7 linked regions of the Homo sapiens genome follow. The protein of the gene in region 2 purifies or fractionates together with the protein of the main gene of each other region. This does not show direct contact. Each region holds a gene or a part of one and is shown on either strand. Other genes may lie near its edges.

Evidence for each region.
Region 1: the proteins of SLC15A3 (region 2) and SLC39A14 purify together in Homo sapiens (affinity purification with mass spectrometry; 2 studies listed by BioGRID and IntAct, with this or other methods). This does not show direct contact.
Region 3: the proteins of SLC15A3 (region 2) and LMBRD2 purify together in Homo sapiens (affinity purification with mass spectrometry; 2 studies listed by BioGRID and IntAct, with this or other methods). This does not show direct contact.
Region 4: the proteins of SLC15A3 (region 2) and GCN1 purify together in Homo sapiens (affinity purification with mass spectrometry, with the first as the bait; one large-scale study listed by BioGRID). This does not show direct contact.
Region 5: the proteins of SLC15A3 (region 2) and LUC7L2 purify together in Homo sapiens (affinity purification with mass spectrometry; 2 studies listed by BioGRID and IntAct, with this or other methods). This does not show direct contact.
Region 6: the proteins of SLC15A3 (region 2) and GOLPH3 purify together in Homo sapiens (affinity purification with mass spectrometry; 2 studies listed by BioGRID and IntAct, with this or other methods). This does not show direct contact.
Region 7: the proteins of SLC15A3 (region 2) and MYO6 purify together in Homo sapiens (affinity purification with mass spectrometry; one large-scale study listed by BioGRID and IntAct). This does not show direct contact.

What each region holds. Positions count from the first base shown.
Region 1 is NC_000008.11:22,365,946-22,370,077, forward strand, and holds the start of SLC39A14 (metal cation symporter ZIP14 isoform a precursor), read left to right. Parts: upstream 1-1,332; 5' UTR 1,333-1,463; intron 1,464-1,592; exon of another isoform or gene 1,593-1,792; intron 1,793-4,132. UniProt on the Homo sapiens protein: Electroneutral transporter of the plasma membrane mediating the cellular uptake of the divalent metal cations zinc, manganese and iron that are important for tissue homeostasis, metabolism, development and immunity.
Region 2 is NC_000011.10:60,939,381-60,942,176, forward strand, and holds part of SLC15A3 (solute carrier family 15 member 3), read right to left. Parts: intron 2,766-2,796; coding exon 2,655-2,765; intron 1,911-2,654; coding exon 1,742-1,910; intron 259-1,741; coding exon 100-258; intron 1-99. UniProt on the Homo sapiens protein: Proton-coupled amino-acid transporter that transports free histidine and certain di- and tripeptides, and is involved in innate immune response. Also able to transport carnosine.
Region 3 is NC_000005.10:36,113,888-36,117,387, forward strand, and holds part of LMBRD2 (G-protein coupled receptor-associated protein LMBRD2), read right to left. Parts: intron 2,707-3,500; coding exon 2,573-2,706; intron 1,234-2,572; coding exon 1,128-1,233; intron 635-1,127; coding exon 537-634; intron 1-536. UniProt on the Homo sapiens protein: Recruited to ligand-activated beta-2 adrenergic receptor/ADRB2, it negatively regulates the adrenergic receptor signaling pathway. May also regulate other G-protein coupled receptors including type-1 angiotensin II receptor/AGTR1.
Region 4 is NC_000012.12:120,156,716-120,160,215, forward strand, and holds part of GCN1 (stalled ribosome sensor GCN1), read right to left. Parts: coding exon 3,427-3,500; intron 3,309-3,426; coding exon 3,110-3,308; intron 1,901-3,109; coding exon 1,745-1,900; intron 1,316-1,744; coding exon 1,134-1,315; intron 278-1,133; coding exon 197-277; intron 1-196. UniProt on the Homo sapiens protein: Ribosome collision sensor that plays a key role in the RNF14-RNF25 translation quality control pathway, a pathway that takes place when a ribosome has stalled during translation, and which promotes ubiquitination and degradation of translation factors on stalled ribosomes.
Region 5 is NC_000007.14:139,415,394-139,418,893, reverse strand, and holds part of LUC7L2 (putative RNA-binding protein Luc7-like 2), read right to left. Parts: intron 1,433-3,500; exon of another isoform or gene 1,357-1,432; coding exon 1,165-1,356; intron 1-1,164. Other genes in the region: FMC1-LUC7L2 readthrough protein, read right to left, coding at 1,165-1,356. UniProt on the Homo sapiens protein: May bind to RNA via its Arg/Ser-rich domain.
Region 6 is NC_000005.10:32,124,216-32,126,767, reverse strand, and holds the end of GOLPH3 (Golgi phosphoprotein 3), read left to right. Parts: intron 1-131; coding exon 132-556; 3' UTR 557-2,052; downstream 2,053-2,552. UniProt on the Homo sapiens protein: Phosphatidylinositol-4-phosphate-binding protein that links Golgi membranes to the cytoskeleton and may participate in the tensile force required for vesicle budding from the Golgi.
Region 7 is NC_000006.12:75,888,739-75,892,238, reverse strand, and holds part of MYO6 (unconventional myosin-VI), read right to left. Parts: intron 2,183-3,500; coding exon 1,974-2,182; intron 1,012-1,973; coding exon 933-1,011; intron 1-932. UniProt on the Homo sapiens protein: Myosins are actin-based motor molecules with ATPase activity. Unconventional myosins serve in intracellular movements. Myosin 6 is a reverse-direction motor protein that moves towards the minus-end of actin filaments.

The sequences.
Region 1 (4,132 bases), on a different chromosome or scaffold from region 2:
GTGTGGCGGGGACTGGCCCCTTTCTCACAGCCCACTGCAGTGGGATGAGAGTCCCAAACGGATGACATAATGTCTGGAAAGCACCGAGTTTAACCAAGAGAGAAATAGGGTTATTACAAAGATGAAGGGGCTCTGAGGGAAATTCTGCAAGAGATATCATTACTTTGAAATCACTTGGAAAATAAATGAGAGGAATATCACCCTGCCCCCATACCCACTGCAGCACTGTAATTACGGGGTGAGGATAATTGAATTTTAGAAACGCCCGGGGCCCAGCTACACTCTTCAAAAGTAATATGAAGAATCTGACCCCCTCTGGCCTGGCGAAGAGCAAGCTCCTGAGTTCTTGCTACCGGCTCCAGCGACTGTCTGCTTTCCTTTTCTCCTTAGCGCCGCCATCACGGGGGTCCTCCCCGCAAGACCTGCAGAGAGTGGGATGTTGCCCCCTTCCCTGCGCAAATTTAGAGACAGCTAGTGCCGTCTGGGGACCAGTCACTGTGCTAGGATCAGCTCGAGTACTAAGCCGCGACAGTTGGGCTAGAAAGCCCTTCCTCCGAGCCCCCCAAGGCCCAGGTGGCAGCGGGTTCAGCTCATAGAGGAAATTGTCCTGATGTCCTGCAGAACAGAACAATGGGAGTGGAAAGGGTGGTTTATTTTCTCAAGAAATCGACTACATTTCCCAGGCCTGATATACATCTCAATGGGACTGTCCCACAGAGGAAGAGTCTCCTCGGAACTTCTTCACCCCCAAATTAACATTTCTCCCAACTTTGGGTTAGTAGGGTTCTTTAGGCGTCTGATCATTGTGGGAAGCGGTGCGGCATCAAGTCTGAAAAGTGAATATAATATGGTTTATTTGGAACTCGACCAGGAAATTTTGGTTCTTTTGGCTGGTGGAAATATGCAGAAGAAACACCATCTAAGGGCGCGTCCCCTTCTGAAGTACCTTTCCGAACTGGGGAGGGAAGAGAAAAGCTTTTTGGGTGAACCAGAAGTGGTAAAATCACATTCAAATAGAGTGGGTAGGACTCTCCTCCAGGGGGTGTGGGGTGGAGGCTAGGCGGTGAGAGCTTCCCGCGCCCAGGGAGCAGGTCTTCACGGGAGGTTTCCGGAGGCAGGAGGAGCCTGCGGGTCCTCGGGAGTCACGGCCGGATGAAGGATGGGAGCGGGCGCCGACCACAGCCAGGGCCGCGAGGCGCAGGAGGGCGCAGGCTGGCCAGGTCCCCAGCCTGCCGGCCCCACGTGGCAGCCCCGGGGCGAGCGGGGCGGGCCGGGGGCGGGTCCGGCCGCTGACGCGCCGGGTATATAGCCGGGCATGCGCGCGGTGCCGGGGCCCGGACGCAGTGAGGGGGGTCGGCGCGCGTGTCTACGCGGACGCACCGGCTAAGCTGCTTCTGCCGCCGCCGGCCGCCTGGGACCTTGCGGTGAGGCTGCGCGGGGCCGAGGCCGCCTCCGAGCGCCAGGTGAGGGCGGGGACGCCAAGGGCCGCGGGATGGGCAGCGGCGGAGGAGCCCCGCACCCCAGGCTGGGGCAGTGGGTGGGGGCGGGGACAGCCCTGCGCCGAGGACCGGGCGCCGCTCCCGGGCACCGGCACACGCCCGGACGGCTGGGTGGAGGCTGCACCTGGCCGTGGTGCCGCGCTGGCGAGGGGAGAGGTCAAGGCGCGGCCTGTCCGCCTGGAGGGTGCGGGATGCTAGAGCCGCAGAAGGGTGCCCAGAGCGTGGGTCGCCGCGCCGAAGGCTGAGCCAGGCTCCCGGATTCCCCGCGCGGACACGGACGCAGAACGCAGACAGTAGGTGGCCAATCCGAGGGGCGGCTCTTGGGGCGGCTCTATGGGGCTCTGGGGTCTGGACTTTGCTTTTCAGGAGCTGCGTCCCCGGGCCCCCGCCGGTCCATCTCCCCTCTGAAGGTACATGTACCCAATCTTCCGGCTGAGCGAATCTCCAACCTGGCTTGCCCACGAGGATGGCTTTCTGGCTATTTTTGGTCCTTAATGACCAAGTTAGGTGGTCGGGTTCAGGCTGCCCCCTCTTGGTGGGTGAGGGCAGTGGGACAAAGTCGCCATCCGAGCAGTTTCATCATCTGATCCTGAGGTCCAGTTGAGCCGGGAAAATTTCGTCAGCTCTGGACTAGGGGTTCACTTTTGAGGATCTGGTGCTTGCCAGGGCCTGGGTTCCAGAGACAGGCTTCTCTAAACAGTTAAAGGGCTCGGCTGTACAGGAGGACTCCGGACACAATTGGGGAGTGGCTAAGTGCTCTCTTGTGGCCCGAATGGAAGCGTGGGGTTAGGAGCAGCTTTGACCTGACCCTTCTTCCTGGAGCAAGCCTGGTTTGGGTTTACGTCTTTAGTGGCTCTCCCCTAGGAGCCCCAGGCCATTGGGACGGCTGTGCTCCTGCTGAGGAGTGGCCTGGGAGTTAGCCCTGGCCTCTGTCCCTGCTCTGCTCTTAACTGGCCCTGTGACCTTGGGAGGGTCAGGTCAGTACCACGGTCAGACTAGATCTCCTTAACCACAGCATATACAATTCCGTAATCCTTCCCTCTTTTATTTTATTTTATTTTATTTTATTTTATTTTATTTTATTTTATTTTATTGTATTTTATTTTATTTGAGACGGAGTCTCACTCTGTTGCCCACGCAAGAGTGCAGTGGCGCGATCTCGGCTCACTGCAACCTCCGCCTCCCGGGTTCAAGCGACTCTCCTGCCTCAGCCTCCCGAGTAGCTGGGACTACAGGCGCGTGCCACCATGCCCGGCTAATTTTTTGTATTTTTAGTAGAGACGGGGTTTCACCGTGTTAGCCAGGATGGTCTCGATCTCCTGACCTCGTGATCCGCCCACCTCAGCCTTCCAGAGTGCTGGGATTACAGGCGTGAGCCACCCTGCCCGGCCTATCCTTACCTCTTAAAACCTAAGTCCTAAATATGGACAAGAACTTGTCCATATACATCCTTGGATGCATATCCCCCGGGACGCAGCTCCTGAAAAGCGAAGTCCAGACCCCAGAGCCCCATGGAGCCACCCCAAGGATATACATCCTTGGTAAAGCAAGAGAAGGGATGTCCAGAATCATAACTTAGCAGCTGGAATTAAAAGCCACATGTTCCTTTTCCTGGTGGAGGCTCAGAGAGGTGAGTTTTCCATTACCTGTGTGGTAGCCAGGAGATAGGCTAGTGGTCCTCTTGCTGGGGTTGGTTTGCAGGTAAGACTAGAGGGCACCAGACAGTGGAAGGGGGTCCTCTGGATACTGTCTCTTCCCAAAGGGCCAGGCCAAAAGCAGGTTCTTGCTTAATTTATCATATTTTACTCATCTGGCCTCTGGGGCCTTGAGGGAGGGCAGTGCTGAGCGGGAGATTCGATCCAGGTGTTGACTGACAGCTGGCCAGCCAGTGCAGAGGCTAGAGGAACTCACTGACCTGAGGACTTGGGGGCTGGAGCAGCTGCATCATTGGCCTTGTATTTTAGGCCAGAGTAAGAATTTTGGGCTCTGGGACTCTTAGCCTGTGGATGTACATTGCCTGGTCTGTGCTGGGCTCTGCAGTGGCCACCATGGCGGGTGCACGCAGAAGGCCTGGCCCCCACCCTTCCAGTGCAAACTCTTGGGGAGAAACAGCATCCACGGGTGAAGAACAAGATAGCAACACAAGAGAAGCCTCCATACTGTGCACAGTTCAGTTCAGAGAGCGGGCATCCTTGAAAGACGGGAATAATTCTGGCCTTTTGAGATAGGTGGGTCTCTGTTCAATTCCTGGCCCCGTCACTCTCCAGCAGTGAGAAATTTCTTAACTTCTGTTCTCACCAGCTTGCAGGATGTCGTGATTTTGCCTGGAACATAGTAGAGGGCTGCTTGTCATCATTCTCATCGTCATAATTTTTGTGGGGTGGAGTGGGTTATTTAGGGGTCCCAGAGGCTGATAGTTGGGTTGGGTTGTAGGAATGGTGTGAGCCCAGGCGTAGGGTTGATTCATCTCTTCCTTGGCAACATGGATGCAATTTCCCTGCCCTTCTGGGAAGGCCGCTTTTCTGTGGCCTGCCAGGGATTGTCCCACAGATCAATTGGGCAATTTTAGGGAAAACAAACTTTTTTCTACCTTTGGTTCTGGGAGCTGCTCTGATTTCTTCAGAGAAGAAATG
Region 2 (2,796 bases):
ATGGGCCCTGGGGGCTGCATCCCTGGGGTACCTGACTTTGAGGTGCCACCGGGCAGAGCCCATCACTGGTGCAGGAGCAGGGGAGGGGATCCAGGGTACCTGGGATGCTGGCAAAGATCTCACTGATCCCAATGAGCAGGTACTGAGGGATCTGCCACCAGATGGACAGTGGTGCCGCGTTGTACAGGACCTCCCCAATCTGCTGGGACACGGTCTCGTTGTGGTGGATGTAGTGTAAGCGCTCCATCTCCAGGACTCCTGGTGGAGGAGCAGAGGGGGATTATAGTCAGGCCCACCCCAGGCAGCTTAGCCCACAGAAGAGCTTGTACATGGTGGGGATGGGGTACTCATGAAGCAGCCAAAGATTGAGCAGCAGGCAAGGAAAAGAATGCTGGACTGGGGGGTGGAGGAGGGGGCCAAGATGTGACCAACTCCTCCCTTTTGGTCTTGGCTGCTAGAAGCTCCAAGCTGAGTTTTGCACTCAATAACACTAACAACTCTCATTAATGGAGAACCTGTTATGTGCTAGGCATTTACCATGCATCCTTGCTGCGGAAGAAAGTGAAATAACTAGCACTTTCAAGTGCTTAACTAGAAAGTTAAGCAACTAGCCCACAGTCACACAGCTGATAAGTAGTCAGGGCTGGATTTGAGCTCTGGTATGTCTGGTTTCAAAGCTGGCCTACTTTCCATGATATCACATGACTTCTCTACTGCAACGTCAAGTATTGCTGTAGTGTTTCTAACCTGGCTTTCAAGTTTAACTATGTTATCTCCTTCTCCTGTGTTGCTTGGGAGATAGCTGTGCTCTAGTGGAATGAACATTGGACATGGAGTTGGGGGACCTGGGTTCCCAGCCTGGCTAGCTGTGTGACCTTGGGCAAATCACTTAACCTCTCTAGACTCAGTTCCCTTACTCAAGAAGCAGGAATAACATTCCCAGGATTATTGTGAGGATAAAATAGGACAAACTGCTTTAAGGATATAGCTGGAATAAAATCTAGTTGGGTTTTCACACTTTCAACACAATACCGTTTATGGAGCTTTCATTTCTCCAGCTCATACTTGTGATCCAGGCACACTACTGAGTGCTTTACAGACTTCATCTGCTGTAATCCTCACAACACCCCCCATCAGACTGAGTTCCACAAGGGCAGAGCCCTGCTCAGGGTCCGAATGACACCTGTCCCCATTTTAAAGACATAGCTCAGAGACTCTAAGGAACTTCAGGGTCATAAAGTTACTAAGTAAAAAGGGTTCAGGTTTGTGCAACAGTGTGAAAGACTTCTTTAGCTGATCCCCCCCACTGCCCCCACCAACCCCCACTTTGTAACAAATGGCTTCAGATCCTTTTGAAATGGAAGAAGGAAGATAATTTTTTTTTAAGTCTTCATTTGCCACTAAGTGGAAAATTCATTCAACACATTTATGGAGGGCCCACGTGCATGTTCATAGCAGTGAATAAAAAAAGAAAAACTATCTCTGCCTTCAAGGAGCTGATAATTCACTGGGGGAAAATATTTGTTCCTCTCTCGGCCTGAGTTTCTTCTTCTGTCAAAATGAGGGGCAGCTGGATTAGATAGGAGGGTCTCTTTCAGCTTGCACCTCTGGGAAGCCAACACTGACGCCCACTGGGAGAGGCTGAACTTGGTCCAGGCTACCACTTCAGCATCAGCCCATGGTGGAAGCAGACTTCCCCAAGCCCAAAGTTCAGCCCCCTGCCCCACACCCCTCTGCACACCTGCCACAATGACGGAGGTAAAACCAAAGAACATCCCCAGCGCCATCTTCTGCAGAGCAGAGGGAAGCAGCTTGCACCGCAGCAGTAAAGGGTCGATCAAGCGGTCCTTCAGAGGGACCAGAATCAGCACCACCACAACATTGGCCAGGAGGAGCCAGGCTTCCGGGATCTGGGCAGGAGGAAGTCAGGAGAGGCAGGCTAGCAGAGTGCAAGGAGCCTGGCTGCAGTCAGGAGACCTGGACTCTAGACTGGCCCTGGGTGACCCTGGGGTCCAGCTCCTTTCCCTCTCTGGAGTTCATGCTCCTCAGCTGTGTAACCAGGGAGTGGGATTATGTAGAGATGGCAAATAGGTTCCTCTTGTATTCTAACTTTTATCAATTGGTAGTGGCTGATTATGGAACATTTATGGGCTCAGCATAAAAAAAGTCATGATTGACTAGTGATGTCTGCCATGGGCAAGGAAATGGACTACAATGGCAAATTTCTCATATATCTGCCAGCTCTGCAGATCATTCATTTCATGAGTCTGAAATGCCAAGGAACTGGTTTAGAAAGTTCTGGGAAAGGCAGAGATCTAGGTATCTAAGGGTCCCAGAGAAAGAGGGGACAAGGAAGAGTTGAAAAGGGACCTAAGTATGCTTGATCTGAGGGTGCAAATTAGGCAGCGAGACCTGCTTCAGAGCAGCAGCATGGGGGTGTGCAGCTGGCCTGAATTCCTTCAAGCAGTTGAGCATCTTGGCAGGATCCCTGCGCTGTGACACAAGTCCTCCCACCCTCCAGGTGCTTTTCCTGTATCCTGAGGTTGCCTTGCAGGCAGGAAAGGGGAGTGTGAAGGCAGTTTCATTTCCTCCTCTTCTCAGAGGAAGCCGCTACCTGGCTGAACTGGGTGCCGAACACATGCTTTATCTCTCACCGTGTAGCTGCTGCCCTGGGCTCTCAGGGCCACAGAGATGTTGGCCGGGTTGGCTGGGAAAATGTTTGGGATGTGGAGGTGAAGACCCTGCAGGACATAGGTGGACTGCATCTGCCAAGAGAGACAGGGGTGAGGCTGGAAC
Region 3 (3,500 bases), on a different chromosome or scaffold from region 2:
CTAATTCCATGAAAACAGCATGCCATGTACTTTATGACACAGGAGAAAATTTCTCCTCTAATCTTAATGTACAGCTTGATTACAATCGGTCCTCACCTGACCCTTTGTGCTGGCCATGGTCTGAAGCATTTAGACACCCAGCAATAATTATTGGAAAGCTCTAAGGCTAATTTATGTCATTAGAAAAAAGCTGGACATAAGGGTGTTTTGCAGGCTACGATAGCTGTCAGTGTCAAAGGCCAGGACTTAGAGTTAACATTCTGTAATTAATCCTATCATTTTTTAGCCTAAATAGAATAATGTTAAAATAGTATTATTTATTATAATAGAATAATAACTCTACCTCTTTTTTCTTTAAATTTTTTAGAGGGAGACTCGCACCTGATCACTCAAGTAGTCCCTTCAAACTATCCCCAGCTTCTCCAAAGCTACAATGAAACAAACTGAAACTCAATCAGTAAATATTTAAAAGAGCTTTAAAGAGAAAGGATATCCAGATTTAAGAGCAAAAGAAAAAACAATGTTAAGTTTCTTACCTAAAATAAGTAGCAATGCAGAGAATTACCACCAACATAGGATAATATATATAGAATCCATCTGCAATAAAGGATAAAACTTTCATGGAACCCATAATCTGAAGAGCAAGAAAAAAGTAAGTTAAATTGGAATAGCTCTATAATTTCCATTCCTTTCCATCATTAGAAAATTTGCCTATAACCAGTTATATCAATCCATTTGAACTTTTTAAAAAGTAGAAAAAAAGCAGTAAATGGACTTATTTTTTAAAATCTGCTTTTTATTGAGGTTTTCTCTTAAAGAAAATTAATATAATTATTACTCAAAATTATCACATACATTGACTACAAATATAAAGTTAATATTAGTATAGGTCAGTTCTTTTGATACTGGTCAGCTAGACAACATATATGAACCAAAAAAAACATTTTTATCATAAAAGAAGGAAAATCACTTTTATCTAGTCAATAGTAATACGTATACAATCTTTAAGAGAAAATTTTACCAATAACACTATAGAACTTTTCTGCTGGCATTAAAAGAAATTTCACAATAACAGCACCTCATATAGATAGTGAACCTAAGGAATTCTATTTTCTGACCGTACTTACAGATGTATAAGCAGTTGGTTGAGTATTCTTGTGAGAGATAGATGAATCCATATGGGTCAAACCCAAGAAATTAAGACATAAAGGAGGTGTCAAACGGCAAAATAGCCTGCAACAAACATTTAAAAATATGTATATAAAAAGTAAAGCAGCAAAATACATTTTATAGTATACTGAGATGTATTAAAAACATTTCAGATAATTATAGCTAAAATTTTCATCTATTTGCTTTATATATATATTGAATTCTTAATGTGACCTGCCCTCACTTACTTGGGAGATATTCTGAAAATTGCCACATCAATGCCTACGTGACTACAGCCTCAAGCTCCTTGCTTTTATGGTTTCTGCCATTGCTTTATCCCCACAAGTTGTGGAGTGCCTTTGTATCATCTCCTACAACTAAGCCATCCGTAAAATCCATCTCACAGCATGACAAGGACAGTAACATCCTCAAGGTGAATTGTATTCAGTACATAAAAGAACTGAAGTTGTATCAACATATGTCATTCTGACAAGCACAGATATAAAGTTGTTCAATTCTGTCCAAATAAAAAGAATGCCTTACAAACCCACACACTTGGATAATTGGGGCTGGGGAGAATAAAGTGTGGGTATGAATTAAAAAAAAATAATATGAGATAATTCTTTTGTGGTGATAGAACTGTTCTGAATCCTGATTGTGTTGGTGGCTACAGGAATCTACACACACACACACACACACGAATGAAGGATAAAAAATGGTGAGAACTAAATAAAGTCTGTAGTTTGTAGTTAATAGTAATGTTTTACTCTCATTTCCTGGTTTTGATATCACTGGGGGTAGCGTGAAGGTTACATAGGACTTTTTGTGCTACATTTGCAACTTCCCATGAGTCCATAATTATTTGGAAAACAACAAAAAAGATGCTTAAAAATACTTTGGATGTCAACTCCTCTATAAAATTATCTAAGTTCATCCTTTATAAATACCTAATAGGACTCATTTAACAATAAGAACAGGTAATAGATTGTACAATCTTGCCCAACTTGAAGACATCTCTCTAAATCCTCTCTGAATTCCTCAGGAAAAATTGTTCTTGTTGGTTTTCTCAGTCCTCCTCAACTCAGTGAGAGACCGCTGAATCTTAGAACACCATCTAGGTCTGACTTAGTCTCTAAACTGTCCATTGTTTCTACTGCTTGCTAATCTCTGGTTGGTAAATCCGGGCTCACTAAGTATGCTTCTTCTGCCTTCTAGCCTAACCTAGCACACCTATTTTAACCTTAAACCTCAAGCAGGAAGTAGCTGGCAATCAACAAACATCAATTTAATATTTGAAACTAATCAATTAGCTGATAGAAATATAGATGTTAGTGGAACACCTGTAAACAACAAAAAATAAAAGATCCATAAGAATACACTCAATGATGACATTTCTCTTGTTTCTAAACATAATCCTACTTACATGCCACTGAAAAGAAGGCTATAAGCATCAGTCTGGTGATGTGAGGCCAAATAATAATAGTTAAATACACGAATCCTGAACACAGTAGAATAAACACAGATACTTAGGAAGAAGATGGAAAGGAAGCAGGCAATCTGGAAAAAAACAAAAACAAAGCAGTTTGTTTAAAACAAACAGACTTTAGCACTTAACAATTACAGGCATTATCCTTCATTTCTTTTTCTTTTGTTTTTTTGAGATGGAGTCTCGCCCTGTCACCCAGGCTGGAGTGCAGTGGCGCGATCTTGGCTCACTGCAACCTCCACCTCCTGGGTTCAAGTGATTCTCCTGCCTCAGCCAACTGAGTAGCTGGGATTACAGGCATGTGCCACCACGCCCGGCTAATTTTTGTATTTTTAGTAAGATGGGGTTTCACCATGTTTGCCAGGCTGGTCTCAAACTCCTGATCTCATGATCCATTCGCCTTCGCCTCCCAAAGAGCTGGGATTACAGGTGTGAGCCACCACGCCCAGCCTGGCCTTCATTTCTAGCTAACATTTATTGATGCTCTAAAATTGAAATACAGTAATAGAGAATTTTTTAATCACCCACTAAGATTATGAAAAAAACCCAACACTTCAAACTGTTTAACATCCTAGATCCAAAAGTTTCGAATCTACCTTCTAATGTGAGCCTGTTTTCCCATTCCCTTGGCAACTCTTCACATGAGGCCTATAAGTTATGTAGCTTTACTGGCATAAATATAATCAAAGTATTCCCAGGGCCAAGTGTGATGGATCCTCCTGAAGCAGGACGATCACTTGAGTGCAAGAGTTCCAGACCAGCCTGGGCAACATGGCAAAATCCTGACTCTACAAAAAATACAAAAATTAGCAGGGGATGGTGGTGCATGGCTGTAGGCCCAGCTACTTGGGAGGCTAAGGTGAAG
Region 4 (3,500 bases), on a different chromosome or scaffold from region 2:
CCCCAGCTCCAGTGGCAGGACCCAAGCAAAACCCCTCACTAGCTAACAACAGTCAGGCTGGCTCTCTAAAGCAGTCTTTCTACCAAAGTCCAAAAGTAAGGGCTGAAAGGAAACTAGGACTCCACCCTTTACACTGGGACTTGAGGTCTGGGTCACGAACTGAGTCACAGCAACAGCCAACTGAAAACCACATCACCTGTAAGCGAGGCGAGCCCGTCCCGATCACCCAAGTCAGAAGACGCAGCATGGCCACGCGAGGCAGCAACTCCGGGCCATTCTAGGAGAGAACGGCAGGTAAGTCGAGATGAGGCTGTGGGGAGGTCTGTAACCCAGGCGGCCAACGGCAGGGCATCCTCTCACCCACGGGGGAACATTCTGGATCATACAACCGGCCCCACCACAGAAACCTCATTAAGTTTACAACTAGGTCCACAGGTGCTAACCCCAGTCAACCATGATCCTCAGGAACTAAAAACTAAATTCTGAAACTTGCTTGAAATTCACACTATGAAATCCAGAAAGACCGTAAATATATGAAGAGACACTCAACTTTAAATGAAATGCAAAATAAAATGAGATTATCATTCTTTCACTCATCACTGACGATATTAATACTATCTGAGGTTGCATTAAGGCTTTGAGAAAAGAAAACTCTTGGTGAGAGTATAGCTCAGAATATGCCATATAATCTAGTAATTCCATGTCCAATGAACCTGTCCTAAAGAAATGCTCACACTGGTTAAGTAAGGGGCATATACATACAAGAGGGCACATCACAGTGCTGTTCAAAACAGGAAAAAGTTAGAAACAACCTTAAGAACTCATCAACAGGTAAAGAGTTAAGTAAAACATGGTACATCCATAGCACAGAATCTCATGCAGCCAACAAAGTCAATCAGGTGAACTGACATGTACTGGCATGGCAGGAGAGCCAGAGTCTACAATCACATGAAAGAAGCAGTCTGACCCGTTTTTGCCTTAAAAAACCCACAACACTGTGTGAGGCTGCTGTTGGTATAAACATACACTCTCTATTTCCCCACCAGGAACTGTTCATGAGACAAAACGTGTCCACAGGCCCTGCCTCCCTGATCCCCTTTAAACCAAGAGGAGAGCAGAGCTTCCCTGCCAACCTCGTCCACCCGCCCGGGTGGGGTGTTGGGGGAGGCCCTCAGCTGGGCTTGGACAGTGAGGATCTGAAGAATCTGGGCCATCCACTCCTCCTCCTCCTCACTGTGGTGGGGCATCTCCGTCAGCACCATCTTCAGAAACGGGAAGACTAAGGAGAAGGCTGGCGCGGACAAGGGCGCAGCACCTGTGAGAGCGAGAAGCAGATAAGATTCTGCAGGCAGGGCAGGGACCCGGGCCACTGCTGCCTATTTCTATCCTCAGGGAAAGTAGGGAACGGATGGACCAGAGGCCCGTTCTGACACCTGGAAGCACATGGCACGAGGACAGAGACAGCAGCTGGTAGTCCAGTTCTAAAACCAATTCTGCTTCTACTGCCAAACACTGCCCAGTTCCAGGATGTGAGAGTTAAAACAGAGATGGGGACACCAGTGACAAAAAGTAAACCCTCAACTGGGCTCACTGCAATTCACAGACTACGAAGGTTCAATTCAGAAATCCTCCATATGGTCCAATCCCCCAGGCTCAGGAGGCCCTGGGTGACGCTGTGCCTTGAGCAGCATTCCTGGCACCAGCTCACACCGCCTGGTGCCCCTGATCCCGTCCCAGCCCTTACCTGGCTCCCCCTTGCCCACCCTGCTGGTGATGGTGTGGGTGTGCAGCAGCATCACCGCCCTCTTCACAGCCACCGACAGCTCTTCCTGGCACCAGGACTTATCCAGGACACACTCTGGCTTCAGCAGGCGCAGGGTCACGTGGCTCACCAAAGTGCCTGTGTTGAAGAGGAGAGACCCAGCAGGAGATGACACACAGAGATGTGGAATCCAGCCCAGGCTAAAACAGGGGACCCAGTGCCTCATCCTTCTGACTTAAAAAAATATTTCTGCGGCTGGGCGCGGTGGCTGATGCCTGTAATCCCAGCACTTTGGGAGGCCGAGGCGGGCGGATCATGAGGTCAGGAGATTGAGACCATCCTGGCTAACACGGTGAAACCCCATCTCTACTAAAAATACAAAAAATTAGCTGGGCGTGGTGACGGGCGCCTGTAGTCCCAGCTACTCAGGAGGCTCAAGAAGGAGAATGGCATGAACCCGGGAAGCGGAGCTGGCAGTGAGCCAAGATGGCGCCACTGCACTCCAGCCTGGGTGACAGAGTAAGACTCCGTCTCAAAAAAAAAAAAAAAAATCTTTCTGCTTCGCCAAAATGTCCCCAGCCTAATTTCTCACTTGATCTTTGTGACAGCCTCAGAGGGCAGGTAGGCAGAGAGTTGCCCTTTGGACATTTAAGAAATGAGTACGCTGACAGGAGACAAGGGCCACCAAAGAGTCATTCAGCCAAGAGTACAGCTCTATCTGTGCAGCATCTCCACCTCTACGCAACAAGCCCAGACAGCCAGGTGACACTTCTGGCAGGTTTCATATGCACCAGCTGACTTTTCCACTCAGAACAGTTCCCAGATTCTAGCCTCACCCGTGGGAACATCACCGTTAGGCCAGGATAGAAGTCTGCTGAAGGCCACTAAACAACCCACAGAAGCAAGGCCACCAGAACTGCCAGCCACCCTACCTGGTGTTTGTTTCTCCAGAGCTAAGAGGAAGCTAAAGGTCTCAAGGGCCTCTGCTCACTGCTGTCATGTGGCTGTTCAGGAGATCTGGGCTGGGCTGAGCCACCAAACCATCCTCACTGCCACTGAACTTCTGACTTCTTAGTTTTAAAACTGGTATACAAAGATCGAACACTGACTAGCATCTAAAACCTACTCCTCAGAGGGAGGGCACAGATGTGAAGTGGGAGAGAAGAGGAGGCACTACGTCTCTCCTAAGCATATCCAGCTTGAGTCTCCAAGGCTGCTTCCACAAGAAAACAAAACTCAGCAGCTGAGGTCACCACCCACCTCCCCACAAGCACTCAGGGGCACACCCTGTCCAAGCACTCAGGGGCACCCCTGGGCCATCCCTGCAGCCAGCAAACAAGGACTAACCCAAAGCCTTGAGCCTAGAGGGCATGACACAGGCAGCCAAGGACAAGAAGGGGTTCTTGATCCTGGGAGCAGCCAGGGGAGACTTCAGCAAGGGCAGAAAAGAGTCGACCAAAACAGGGATGTACTGGGTCAGGCCGGACGGGTTCTTGGCCAGGATGATGTCCAGCAGTCCAAGCGCCGCCTCCAGCTCCCCATCCAGCTGCAAGCAGAGTTGTCCAGAAGGCAGGTCAGCAGGGCCCTGCTTGTGACAGCAAGCAGCAGGACCAAGCTGCCCAGCACTCTTCCGGCTTGAGCATGTGGCGGAGGTGGCCACTCACCTCCTGCAGCCGCCTCCGGACCTGCGCCTCCCTGTCTAGCTGGGCCTGCAGCATCTCCTTCTGCTTGCTGGTCA
Region 5 (3,500 bases), on a different chromosome or scaffold from region 2:
CGCCCATCTCGGTCTCCCAAAGTGCTGGGATTATAAGCGTGAGCCATGGCACCCAGCCTCACATAGGAAACTTCTTAGAGCAACTTAAAGTTGTTCAACTATGTTATACGTCTTTCTTATGTTTTACTAAGTCTAGTACAGTAAAACATATACAATTAATTATTATTAAAATCACCTTAAGAAATACTAAAAACAAGGCCAGAATATAAGAAATAAAATATTGAGAGCCTATTAACAAACTCAGCTTGTGAGTGATTTCAGGGAATGGAAAGTTGAGTCAAAAAAAAATAGGAAAGATTTTAACAGCTTTCTGTGGATTTTATTATAGATTTTATGTGGAGTAATCCACAGAATATGTAAGACTAGTAGGTACTAGGCACTCAAAAAATGTTTATCATACATATACTTCTGAATAGTTGTCAAGAAAAAAGCAATTTTAAACATGGCTTACGTTACACAGAAATTACCTGGTTTAAGGGCCATCATGTGACCTGAGAAGTTTTGACAGTTTGATCTATACAGACTATGAATGCTAAACTCTTCTACCACATTATAATCCTTTGTCTATCCTTAATAGATATTCAAGTCCTCAAACATACCTTACCCTATGCCTGCACCTTTTGAATGTTCTCATTAAACCAAGGGAAGTCTTGGAACCTCCTTATTAGTCTGCCTTGCCAAGCTGAAGGTATGTAACAATACATATCTATAGTGCAGATAAAACAAGAATATACTAGAATGTGTCTGCTCTGAAAAAGCATCCCAGCTCAAATAAGTTTAGAAAACAATAAATCAAAGCTAAACAACTCTTGTAATGAAAGGACTTCTCAGAGCCCCTAATTTGCTGATCCATACTAAGGGTATTGGTATTTAAAATTATTTACCTGTAAAGAACTTTTTTCCAAGACACACTAAGCAGAGAAAAGCAATAACCTCTACACATATTGGTTCCAATTTCTTGCTCTGGCTCATAAGTATATTCTTTCAAAACTACCCATATAATCACAGAAAAATGTTGTACACCCACACATAAATGTGTACATATTACCAGATGCAAAAGTTTCAAACCAATAATCTGAACTCTAAACATAAGTAACATAAGTAAACATAAACAACTCTAAAACATTAAGGTAGCTCCATATCCTCTGATTGACACATCAATACCTCCTCTTGGATCGTTCTCTGCTCCTATCTCTAGAACTGTGCCGACTTCTCTGGTGGCTACGGCTGCGGCTACGGCTGCTGGAGCGGGACCTGTGGCGATGGCGTTTCTCCCGAGATTTGGATCGAGTTCTCCTCTTGCGTTCACGTGACATGGAGCGAGATCGATGTCTGCGATGCTCTCTGGACCTGGATCTACCAGACAAGATTTGATTTTGTTTCTACCTTTGTAATTACTATATTTCTCATTTATTAAAGCCTTTTCTTTAAAGAGAAACTTTTTTTCAGTAGTCTTAATGTCAATTATATTCCAAGTCAGCTAAATCTACACTGAATTGCTGGTGTGTTAATAACTACATACTAGAATTCAAAATAAAACATTAATAATTCTCAGCCAGGCGCCGTGGCTCACACCTGTAATCCCAACACTTTGGGAGTCTGAGGCAGGAGGATCGCTTGAGCTCAGGATTTCAAGACCAGCCTAGGCAACATGGCGAAACTCTGTCTCTATAAAACATACAAAAATTAGCTGGACACAGAGGCACATGCCTGTAGTCCCAGCTACTCAGGAAGCTGAGGTGAGAGAATCTCTTGAGCCAGGGAGGTCAAGGCTGCTGCAATGACCTGGTGATCACATCGCTGCAGTCCAGCCTGGGCAAAAGAGTGAAATTCTGTCTCAAAAACAAGACACTGATTGATAATTCTCAGAGAGCAATCAGTAATGTATAAATTTATTATCAGAAATAGTTTTTCAAGTGAAAGCAACTTTTGAACCACTACTATATGCCAGGGGCTATATTATCTAGATTTGTTATGAATTTAATTGCACTTAAATATCTTGAACATTTTTGTATCCTCTAGAAATTAAATATGTACCTGACAGACCTGGACAGAAGGGAAGAGAAGAGATGAGGAAGAATACGTCAGGACAAATTACTCTTTGTCTGAATTAGAAAGGTGAGATAACCATAGAAGTAAGTTTTTAATGCCCACAATATGCATGTCTAGTCACAGTGTAATCAAAACAGAGTAAGGGCCAGGGGTAGTAGCTCACGCCTTTAATCCCAGCACTTTGGGAGGCTAAGGAAGGATGATCACCCAAGCCCAGGAAGTCAAGGCTACAGGGAGCTGTGTTCACACCACTGCATTCCAGCCTGGGCAATAGAGAGCAAGACAAAACAAACACAGTAAGACAGTTCTCTATTCAAGGAGCAAACAGTTTGGGAGAAAGAACACTTGCGAAAATCATTTTTGAGAACTTGACTCAGATTGCAAAAAAAATGTATTTCTAATGAATACACAGAAATAGAGAACGAAAAACATTCTGAAAAACCAGAAAATATACGATCAAGGTGCTGGCAAAATAAAGACATTTTTTGAAAAGAAAAAAACCCACAAGGTAAGACACTTTTATAGCCTCCACCAGGTCACAAACTAACTTGTGGGGTGGGTGGGGGTGCATGGTGAGGGTGGAAATGGCATGGAGAGGACATAAACGTTTGACAGAAAACAAGGGGAAACAAAGGAATGCAACTTTGTTAGAAGAGTCACTTTAAGAATGATGGAAATGTTCTCAACTGGATTATGGTGATAGTTGCACAGCTTTAAATCTGCTAAAAAATCACTGACTTCAGAGTAAATCATATATATATATATATATATATATATATATATATATATATATATATATATTTTATACCTCAATAAAACTCTTAAATTTAAGTCACTTTAAGAATGTGAGGTTTGCTCATAATTTGATACAGCAAGTTCAAAATCATATTATACATATGAGATAGTTTACAAATACAGTTTATCTTCAACTGATTGTTATGAACGATGCTAAAAGGCATTCAGCTTATGTCAACATTATAGTCAAAGAAAGGTACATGACATGGACGTAGCTTTAGCCACACTTAAAAAGAGTATTTCTGGCTGGGCACAATAGCTTGTGTCTGTAATCCCAGCACTTGGGGAGGCCACAATGGGAGGACTGCTTAATCCTTAAACGGGAGGAGTTCAAGACCAGCCTGAGCAACATAGGGAGACCCCGTATCTACAATAAATTTTTAAAAATTAGCTGGACATGGTGGCACACGCCTGTGGTCCCAGCTACTCAGGACAGAGTGAGACCCTGTCTCAAAAAAAAAAAAAAAAAAAAAGCGTTATTTCCACAGCTGAAAAGAGTAATTCCAAAAGGAAGCAGAGGGAAAAAATATAAAACTCTCAGTGTAAGTTTTATCAAATCATACTTCGTTTAACCACTCATTTTGAGTTATTATGAATGCCATTTCTTCCAATGTATAACTTTATTCATCTTTTTAAAAATTCTAGGTAATTTT
Region 6 (2,552 bases), on a different chromosome or scaffold from region 2:
GAGAAAAACATGGCAGATTTTCTTCTGTTTTTCTTGGGGCAAAATCAGATTTTACTGTTTAATAGTACAAAATTTTTGCAAAATTAGCAGATAATACTCATCATTTCTAACTTCTGAAATCTTTTGTTTAGGTGAGACATGGAATCCATTAAAATTGCATTATCAGTTAAGAAATGTACGGGAACGATTAGCTAAAAACCTGGTGGAAAAGGGTGTATTGACAACAGAGAAACAGAACTTCCTACTTTTTGACATGACAACACATCCCCTCACCAATAACAACATTAAGCAGCGCCTCATCAAGAAAGTACAGGAAGCCGTTCTTGACAAATGGGTGAATGACCCTCACCGCATGGACAGGCGCTTGCTGGCCCTCATTTACCTGGCTCATGCCTCGGACGTCCTGGAGAATGCTTTTGCTCCTCTTCTGGACGAGCAGTATGATTTGGCTACCAAGAGAGTGCGGCAGCTTCTCGACTTAGACCCTGAAGTGGAATGTCTGAAGGCCAACACCAATGAGGTTCTGTGGGCGGTGGTGGCGGCGTTCACCAAGTAACTCTGCTCGGGGTGAACCATTCTCCTTTCTCTCAAGTAAACCAGTAGTTTTTCTTCTGTTGACTTCTGGTTTTCTGTAATTTGTACTTTCCCACACTATAATTGGCTTCTGTTTTACAAAATGGTGGGTGGCTTTTTCTTTTTTGTACGTGTACAGGATTCTGCTGGTACGAGAGGCCTTCCTCTTTCTGTTTTTAAAAAAAGTTTTACTGCCATATTGGCATTCCATTCCCTGTTGCCATCCTCACTGTTACCTGTTTTGGGTTTCTGGTCTACTTTGACTTTCAAAGTACCTCCAGCCTCCTCATACGCACAGCTTTTGGATGACCTCAGCTTGAGTTTCTCCATATGTGCATGTACATCTAGCATTCTGCCTACAGTTCAGACAGAAGTCACAAAAAGGCCTTCAACTCACCAAAGGTAAATATCTGTATCTATTAGGACATTTTTTACATAGACTTCAGTTGAGATGTATACTTAGCAAAATTATTTTTAAATTGAAACAGCACAGTAAATACTTAATATAAAATGTCCCTTGGATTTTGCTTCCCATGTAAATCTATTGTATTATTACACTTGTTATAATTTTAACTATAAAGGTCCAATTGTTTCACAGAGCCAGTTTGGGATGGGCTGCATTCCATTTATGCTGTATATAGTTTGAATTATATATAAATTACCCCTTCTTCTGGCCACCCCTGCTCCCATCTTAGTATTTTGCAAGATCTAATCAGTTGTACACCTGGTGCCCCTCGCTTGCTTCAATCATGGTTATTTGATGGCAAAATCGACCTCTTGTCGCTGAAGGAGAGAGAAAAGATGTGTGTCTGATTGGTCCTGGGATTTTTTGAGCTGTGCCATTTATGGTACTCTTTGCCTATGCATCCCCTTGTTAGATTTTTTTTAAATTTTATCTTACTGTTTTTATAATTTCTATTGGGAAGAGGCTTGTGACCAGTACCAATCTTGAGTTTCTTTTTCTGTCCACAAGTAAATTAATATCTGCTCTGAAATGTCATTTATCTACTCACACATTCTTGGGGAAAAAAATCAAATGTCAGTCCTAGCAGATGTTGCATGTAAATTGGTAGCAAGTAATGATTACAACCCAGAGGATTAAGAATTTTGTAACAGAAAGCTCTATGTTTTAATTTTTTATATACAATTAGGATAATTAGCATTGTCAGACTATAAACCTTTGCTTTTTAAAGTTTATTTTTACTATTTCTTTATCACTTTATTGTATCATCACCATTGGTTTCATAATGTAAATACTATATGTTGAACAAATTAAATGTCAAAATTTTTTATTACCATAGTCCATGTTAATAGTGGGGCTTTCAGGTGTTTAGAGATTTTTTTTGTTGTTGTTAACATTCATTGCAAAAGTACTAGATGGTGTATAACTCTAGAGTTGAATTTTAAGGGATTCCCTAATATGTATACTATCTTTTTATCTGAAGTAATAAATAAACAATGATCTTGAAAGTGCCTGAATCAGAGCAAGCATGTCATTTGTGTTTTTGTATTCTCATTTAGTTTTCTTTCAAATGAAATGTTACTTACTGTAGCATTGTAATATTTTAATGCAGGGCTTGGGTTTCTTAAAGGGCCAGATAGTAGATATTTTAGGCTTTGTGAGCCGCCAGCTGTGTCAGTTGCAACTACTGAACTTTACTGAATGAAAACTGTTATAGATAATACAAATAAATAGGTTAGACTGTGTTCCAATAAAACTTTATTTGCAAAAACGGGGCTGGTCAAGGCCCCAGTTTTAATGCATGGAAAAAAGACAGATTTTTCTATCCATTGGAGTAACCTTCTTTACCTTCAAAAATGATACTGCTGGTGGTAACTACATGTAGGAACTATTAAAGTGTCTTCCCATAAAGTAGATATTGGGAAACTGATACCAGTATACTGGAATTTCTTATCGAGTGAAAAGTTCCTGTTTTTCACTTGAGAAGATGTTAGAGGTGAGGTAATAGATTTCTGAG
Region 7 (3,500 bases), on a different chromosome or scaffold from region 2:
GGCATCCCATTAACACTAACACCTAGAGAGCAGATGTCAGGAATTTAAAGTTTTGGTTATGCTTAGGATATATTATGAAAGCCATGACAAACAGAAATTCAAATACATGAGCAATTTATTCTCAACATGGGACTTTTTAAAAACTAGGGGTGGAGAGAGACTCTTAATCCTAATTTATTAATTCCAGTATCTACAAAGTTATATGATATTTTAAAACTTAACATTTTAAGTGAATTTTCATTTGACTTTCCCCTAGGTATAAAAACAATTATTAATATTTATTGATCTACACAGTGTTCACAATGCTTTAACATGTATTAACTGTCAAATGCTTGCAACTATTATTTATCCACATTCTACAGAGAGACAACTGTGACCCATAGTTCCTCACTATAATGTGTACAATGTCACAATTTCTGTCAGTGACTGATCTTGGATTTGAACCCACTTCCCTAGCTCCAAAGTCCATTCCCATAACCACTTCAAAAACTGGCCTTTGGTCTCTAGGATAAACTAGTGACAGCTTATCTAGCAAATCAAGATCTCATTTTCACTTCTTTCATAGGTTCCATTTTATTTTATTTATTTTTTATTTTTTATTTTTTTTGAGATGGAGTCTCGCTCTGTTGCCCAGGCTGGAGTGCAGTGGTGTCATCTTGGCTCACTGCAAGCTCTGCCTCCTGGGTTCACATCATTCTCCTGCCTCAACCTCCCAATTAGCTGGGGCTACAGGTGCCCACCACCATGTCCGGCTAATTTGTTTTCGTATAAGTAGAGATGGGGTTTCACCATGTTAGCCAGGATGGTCTTGATCTCCTGACCTCGTGATCCGCCCGCCTCGGCCTCCCAAAGAGCTGGGATTACAGGCATGAGCCACCACACCCAGCCTGTAGGTTCCATTTTAATAGAAATTCAACCCAGTAAGTACATACTTGAATGCGTTTTTCATCATCTTCCCTTTTCTTTCTCTCTTCTTCTTCTTGTTTTCTCTTTGCTTCCATCTCAAGTTTCCTAATAAAAAATAGAAAACTCTTCAAAAATTTAACAGAAAATAAAGAATCCTTCAGAAGGCAATTTAACTATTATTTAATAATAAACAAAGGTAACAGATTGGGAATGCAAATTAACCTCCTGGCCACATACATCAACTTATTTTGAATAAAATAAAATTTAACTCTATTGACAATAATTCTTAAATAAAACAAATATAATTATATTCTATAACTTTTAACATCTCTAGATGAATGTGGTTACAAAGCCTGGCTGTAAGGTCCTGATTAAAGGTGCTTCCCTCTAGTCCCTCTCCAAGTCAACAACTCATCTGTTCTCTCTACCCTATCATGGCAATCTTTCAAAATGTTATCAGTTTTAAAACTGCAGAAAAGTAGAAGTGTCATTTATCTAGCTTAGAAAACAATAAACAAATCATAGTTTTAAAAAGAAGAAAATCCTCAGGTGTAAGAGGCTAACAAATTCAGATTATAGTTAAAATTATTTTATGGTATCACTATTATAAAATGACCTTATTCTCTCAATTTTCAAACTTATTACAAAATTAGTTCATTAAAATAAGAACACAGTTTTAAGAATTGTCAACCGAGCACGGTGGCTCACGCCTGTAATCCAAGCGCTTTGGGAGGCCGAGGCGGGTGGATCCCCTGTGGTCAGGAGTTTGAGACCAGCCTGGCCAACATAGTGAAACCCCGTCTCCACTACAAATACAAAAATTAGCCAGGCGTGGTGGTGCGCACCTGTAATCCCAGCTACTCAGGAGGCTGAGGCAGGAAAATCGATTGAACCCGAGAGGCAGAGTGCAGTAAGCCAAGATCGCGCCACTGCACTCCAGCCTGGGCAACAGAGCAAGACCCTGTCACAAAAACAAAACAAAACAAATAATTGTCATTAACCACTGTCAATACCAAGAATTCACTATTTCTTTAAGTCTCTTATTCAAAATAATATAAATGCCTCACATCCGCCTTTCCTCCTCTTCCTTTCTTCGACGTTTTTCGTCTTCTTCACGTCTTTTTCTTTCCTTTTCCATTTCTTCTTGAATACGCCTCAGCCTTTCTGCTTCCTCTTCCTGCTGTTTTTTTTTCTGTAATGCACTGAGGAGTTCCTCTGAGCTTTTAACCAGTGCATCATATTCTTTCTGGATTTGTTCCTGCGTCATCATAGTGGACTTTAAAAAATAAAATAAATAGGTACGTAAAAGCTTATTTCTTCTGTTGCACAACAATGTGAATATACTTAACAATACTGAATTATAAACTGAAAAATGGCTAAGATAAATTTTAATGTTTTTATTGTTTTTTACAATTTAAAATAAAAAACTACTCCAATATGCAAATACAGCAAAAACTAGGTAAGATGGTAAGCAATACGTCCGTTATCTTTACTATACTGTTTGTACATTAAATACTATTCAAAAAATGTTTTATGTTATCTCTGCACACAAGTATTACACATCAATTAGACAGGTAATCTGTGGATAAGGTAATATACTGCAGTTAAAAATTATTTCTAGGCCGGGTGCAGTGGCTCACACCTATAATCCCAGCCCTTTGGGAGGCCAAGGTGGACAGATCACCTGAGGTCAGGAGTTCGAGACCAGCCTGGCCAACATAGTGAAACCCTGTCTCTTATAAAAATAAAATACAAAAATTAGCTGGGCATGGTGGTACACACCTGTAGTCCCAGCTACTCGGGAGGCTGAGGCAGGAGAATTGCTTGAACCCGGGAGGCGGAGGTTACAGTGAACCGAGATCATGCCACTGCACTCCAGACTGGGCAACAGAGCAAGCCTCTTATCTCAAAAAGAATTATTTCTTAAGTAATGATCAGCTAATTTAGCAATAGTTTACTACTATTTTAGAATAATGTTCAAATAGTACCTAGAGAATATTTTAAAAATTACAAAATATATCCAAAATTATTGGATTTCTAAAATTAGCCTTCAAAAAATGTGGGTGGGTTAATTTTAATTTATAATGATACCACATAAACAAAGATGGCCCTTGACAGATTTATAAAATCAGCTGAGTCTATTTATAGCATTTTCATTTTCCTCCAGATCTTTTTTTTCCTTTCTACCTCCAAGATTGCCATTGTTTACATAAAATATCTGCAGAAAATATAAAACGCTCACTTTAAGATATTCATTATATCCCACATACTTGCACTGACCTATGAAACTGAGAAAAAGCATTAAAACTCTAAAATATAATGAGAAGATATGAAATGTAATTAATGAAATATGAAATATAATTAACAAGCATATAGAAAAGTCTTCAACTCCACTAGTAATCAAATAAATAAAAATCAAAACAAAATAAGGGATCCCATTTTTTTCCTACAAAATTGGAGAGGAAATTGCTATTTTCACAAAATTAATTACATTATCGTATCTATGAAGATAATGTATTAACATGGACAAGTATATAACAATGGTAGAGATAGAAATTGAAATGTATATTATGATAAGAACTGTAAAAATGTAT